2 separate regions of the Homo sapiens genome follow, and region 2 is linked to region 1. Evidence: fine-mapped expression QTL. Tissue or cell type: hypothalamus. Region 1 holds a variant in brackets; the other region holds the start of a gene. All regions are shown on one strand. Distances are between the middles of the regions.

The links. PIP is the estimated chance that this variant, and not a neighbour inherited with it, causes the effect.
Region 2: TTC39B starts here. The variant in region 1 is fine-mapped to the expression of TTC39B in hypothalamus (GTEx, PIP 0.97).

What each region holds. Positions count from the first base shown.
Region 1 is chr9:15,369,302-15,372,058 of GRCh38, reverse strand. No RefSeq gene overlaps it. Among named protein-coding and RNA genes, the nearest start is that of SNAPC3, 52 kb to the left of the region's middle. The variant C/T (reference allele first, on the strand shown) is at 1,482.
Region 2 is chr9:15,305,802-15,308,418 of GRCh38, reverse strand. TTC39B (tetratricopeptide repeat domain 39B) reads left to right here and starts at 1,203. Exons shown (of 20, transcript NM_152574.3): 1 at 1,203-1,335. The coding sequence starts at 1,294. RefSeq lists silencers at 949-1,288, 1,319-1,638 and enhancers at 876-1,438, 2,002-2,565.

The DNA of each region.
Region 1 (2,757 bases):
AAGGTGAAACCCCGTCTGTACTAAAAATACAAAAATTAGCTGGGTGTGGTGGTGCGTGCCTGTAGTCCCAGCTACTCAGGAGGCTGAGGTAGGAGAATGGCATGAACTCCGGAGGAGGCAGAGCTTGCAGTGAGCTGAGATCGTGCCACTGCACTCCAGCCTGGGCGACAGAGTGAGACTCTGTCTCAAAAAAAACAATCCTAAACAATAACTTCCTCGGAGGAAAAAATCGGCTCAGAACAAATTAAGGACCGTCGACCAAAGGGAGGTCCAGGGCTCAGGAGGACTTGTCAGCTCCACTGGTTGGAGAAGCTCGAAGTCAGGGAGGCTTCAATGGTTCCCTGCTAGTACCTTAGCTCCGAGTTTGGCTAACTCCTTCAGGGTCCTGAGTCTTCTCTGAGGCACCAAATTACTGTCAACAAAAAGAGTCAACAATAATTACTTAAGGGATTTATTCTGAGCCAAATATGAGTGACCATGGCCTGTGACACAGCCCTCATGAGATCCTGAGAACATGTACCCTGGCCAAGGAGGAAGTCCATTCAGATGGTTTTGGGGGGCATTAGAATTGTATTTTTGATTTACAGTGTCACCAGTAGGGTGAAATATGTGTGGCTGTGTTTTGGAGGGTGCTAAATTTTAGGTTGAGAAGAGGAGAAGCAAAGGAAAAACAGGAGAGAGAAAGAAAAAGGAAGTGTGGGAGTAGGGAACGAGGAAGAGGACAAGAGGAAGGGAGAAACCAGGAGAACGAGTGCCAGGAAGAGGAATTGGCAGGACTCCTTTCCCAGACACCGCAGCAACCACCTCCGGTGATAGGGTCGGGGTAGGGGAAGGATCCTGGGGCAAAGTCCACCAGCAGGACGAACTGATCACTGGGCAAGCAGTCACTGTAAAACAAGCCTAAGAAGAAATGCAGGCCAACAGACGAGAATGAAGGCAGAAGATGGAGGTGGGCTCCAGAGAGAGAGAGAGAGAGAGACAGATCCCGAACAAGCAGCTGCCTACAATGTAAGAAGGTTTCTGAGGCAGTGTGGGGCCATGCACTGAGGGGCACAGCGGGAAACAGTCCTGAAAACCTGGCAGGCTTGCTGCCGAAAGCTCCCGCTCTTTGTTGTTACTTTGGAGAGAATACTCCCACTTGGTACCCTGCTAATCAACAAGCTTACTAAGTTCTGAGTCATCAATTTTCTATTCTTTTTTGGGAAATGATGCTGAAGAGAAATACTGTAACCATTGGACTAATTCTGCTCACCTCTATCAAGGCCATACTGGTGATCCCTGTGACCCCAGCCCTTGTGTACGATCTGTCCTGGAAAGTATTATTTAATTTCTGATGCAAATGTGGCAATGCCCTTCCATCAGCAGAGGCAGGCAAAGCTCCCGAGAGTGAGGAGGAGGGATGGTGTTACCATGGTAACGAGATGACCAGCTGAGTGTAGATGGAGCTAAGCATCTTTCTACTGAAGAACAGGAGTAGCTAT[C/T]CTTAGCCTCTACTTGTACCTGAGGAGTCACAGCCGATTTACATAAACCCCTCACTTTTCATTAAAAGCAAACATACAAAAGGATTGAGGAAGGCAAATTTTCTCTCTCTTCTTGAGCTGTGACTTCTATCTCTTAAAAAAATAAAAGCAAATTTAAAATAATAAGAGCTAACGTCTCCTACTGGGGAGGAAATTAAGAACAAATGTCTGGGAAGCGGGTGCTCTTTAACACCATTTAGGTTTTTTGATTTGTTGTTTCTAATTAAGATATTGGTTTCTGCTGAGGGCATGCGTAAGGTAGGTTAGATTTTAAAATACTTGCCAGCCTTTGAAGGATGAGACATATTAGCTAGTAAGCCAGTTTATTAGTGATGTAACATGAAACAGCTTACTTACCCTTTTTAAGCTACATTACAATAAATGTACTTCCTCCTAAGGTCAACACTTAAAAGTCAAAACACTCATACTGGATGTTTGTTTACAAACAAATTTCTGATGGCAGTGCTGAGGACCAGAATATGCTGCTCCAAAATAATGGTTTTTTGGCATAAGGATTATTTTGAGCTGATTATTTTGAGAAACTGCAGACACAGGAGAAATTCTGAAAACAGAGTACTAGAAGTTATCGTTTTGTAAGAGAAATTTATATCTATAAAGGGAATCTCCATTTGTAAGAGTGCCTCCTTCTCTGTACCAGGAAGAGATGGATGACAAAGTCACTAAGATGTGTATAAATGGAGAAGGCACTGGCTGAAATCTGCATAACAAACCTTACCCTTGTTTTTCCTGAGCATCTCCACATAACCAGCCTTCCCAATATCATTCTTTCTCGTTTCAGCACACGATGGTATTTAAGACTAAATTTAAAGCCATCTCTTTGAGATTTACCAATTTCAACAGATATCTCCTATGTACACATGTTAATAAACCTGTTTGTTAATCTGTCTTTGGCTACAGATGTCTGTCACTCTGTCCCAACCAAGAACTACAAAGGATAGAGAGAAAATTATTTTCCCTTTTGTACAGCAAGATTGACTTTTTTTAAATATCCCAATGCTATAGCAAATTGAATGTATACTCTAAGAGTTTTGGCTACAAGAATGTTTATAAGTAATCACTCACATGAACACTCATACATTGGAGGTGAGAATGAAAAGGGGACAGCTGCTTTGGAAAACAATTTGGCAGTTAAACACACTTACCATATGTGATGGTTAATTTGATCTAATTTAATTTTTATTTTTTTGAGACAGGGTTGTGCTATCACCCAGGCTAG
Region 2 (2,617 bases), 64 kb after region 1:
CAAGAGGTTCAGTAGAGTCCTGGCACATAGTAAGGACTCAAGAACTATTAGCTGTTTTTACAGTTATCACTGGATGACTATTAAATAGCCTTTCATGAGCCAGACATGGAAGACCACATGCTCTAATTAAATTTATATGAAATTCTAGAGAAGGCAAATCGATGTTGATAGCAGATCAGTGATTGACAGAGGCTAGGGAGCGGAGGTAGGAAATTGACAGCAAAGGGTCACAGAAAACTTTTCAGGATGTTCTATATTATGACTGGGATGCTTTGTAAACACTTGTCACTGAATCACACATTTAACTTGGTGCATTTTTCTGTATGTAAAGTAAATCTGACCTCTCTCCCCCAAACTCTTAAAGATCTAGCTTTTAATTTTCCAGTTATTTTACATGTCAGAAGCAAGGTTCAGTTTCTAAACTCAGCCAACAAATATCTGTTGAGCACCTACGATGTGCAAGACACTGTTCTGGGTGTTGGGGATACAGTCTTGAAGAGGACAGATAGCATCCTACCCCCATGGAGTTTATAGTTCAAGCACGAATTATACACCTATGTTTGGAGTTACAAAATACAGGATGCTATGGGGAGAATACACTGTCCGGGTAGGGGGAAGTAGAGGAGTTCCAATATGTATAAATCTCTGTCCCGCGTTTTTTTCTATTTTTTGAACACAGAAGCAAGCAGAGTCCTTCCACCTACAGTCCAGGTGGGTGGTGTGTCAGAGGCCTCTCGGGGACCAGTGACCGTGACCCAAGGCTGCCCTCAGGCCACACCATCTGCGAGATGCGGTGGCCACCTGGCGAGGGAAAAGGACTGGCACCGGACCAAAGACCAGGTGGATGCTTCCACGGACCCCAGGTGGGGCGCTGCTTTGACCTTGGCTTCGTCATGCCCGCGCTCTCTAGCTTCTTTCCAGGTGTGCCCAGCCACCGCAGAGAACAGGCGGCAGGAAAGCTTAGGAAACCCTCCCAGAGGGCGTGCCAGACCGGGAAACTTTATCTGGGAGGTGACTCCACCCACTTGGGCGGGGCTGCCGCCCGCTGGGGGCCGGGCAAGTGGCCCGGCCAGCGGCGCGGCGTCCGGGGAGGAAATGGATGCTGTGCTGGCCTGCCGGCTCCGGGGGCGGGGAAATCGAGTAGCTGCACTCAGGCCCCGCCCGAGACCCGGAGGGAGCGCCGGGCCGTCCCCTTTTGCCCTCCTTTGCGCTGGGCTGAGCCCAGAGCCGAGAGCAGGAGTCGGCTCTGAGTTCCCTGCTTGGTTTTTGGGTGGCAGCAGCCAGAGGAGGAATATGGCGCTCTTAGGCAGCCGAGCGGAGCTGGAAGCGGACGAGGTACGATCCGATGGGGATTGCGGGCCCGGCCCCTGAAGCCCTGGACAGGAGTCCGGGAGAGAAGAGTGAGCCCGGCTAGGACGGCCGAGGCCCCGCCCCCTTGGTCCCCTCTCTGGGGTGGGCTGGCGGGCGCCGGGTGGGGGCGCCCGGCCTTGGTAGGTCTGTCCCCGCTGGAGCTAGGAGGGTCCCTGCGGCGCGCGGAGCGGACGCAGTGCCGAGGTTCGGAGCGCCGGCCCCGCGAGTCGTGGGGATGGAGGACCCACGTCCTGCCAGCACTTGGATGGGCGTGAGGGCGCGGGACCATAGGACCCGCAGCTCTGAGCTGTTCCGGGCCGGCCCAGCGACGCCTGGGCTTTACGAAGTCTGACCCTGAAGTCCTGGCACTGGCTCTCTGGGTGTTCGTGGAATCATCCCTCGACCTGGGAATCTCACCTTCTATGGAAGTTTCCTGGTGGCAGAACCGAAAGGCTTACGATTGATGAAAAGAGGGGGCAGCCTGAGGAACAATGAGTAGAGGGGTACCTGCCGCGACAGCAGGGCAGGGCTGCCAGGGGCTGGGGCTGGAGGGCTAGAGCCGCAGCCCAGGCTGTGGTGCTTCCCTCTCCCTCCACGGGGCCGGGACACTTCCCCTAGCAGGTCCTCAGAGTCGGTGGTGGCCGGAGGGAAACCACTTTGAGAACCGACTCCGGCCTCCTTTGGTTTCAACTGTGTTTGAGTAATTAGCCACTCCTTCAGTCGTGGCGCGCCCGGGCCTGAGCACCCAGGGGCTAGCGCGCCGGACCTGTTGATTTATTGACTATTCATTTCAGCACCTGGCAACTCCAGAGACAGCGCTCTCCCTGCTCTTGAAGTTGAGACCGAGGCTCCAGCAGCAGCCAGCACCCACAGCTGCTGTTCCTGCCATCTTACCTGACTTGAATTGTGCGAGTCGCTGCCTTTAGAAGGCTTTGGTTTCAAATGATGCAATAGTGGACGATCTGGAGGAGGCGGTTAAGTTTCCCGTCCATCTCTTTAGTGCCAGGAATCTCCTGACAAGGAAGACTATACTTTAAATGTGCTCCGTAAAATAAACAAAAAACAAAAACTGAACTACAGCTCCTCTGCATGACAGAGAGACAAGAGGGCAAGCCGGGCTGTCCAGACCCTTGCTTACAGCCTGTCCCTTGCATTGAGGATCCCAAGACTGTAGAATGAAATATTTGAATCCCGATCTGTTTGTAGGAGATTTGCTGTGCTTAGAACTATGTAATTCTCTAGATTAGGGCATTGTTGAGGCGGTGCT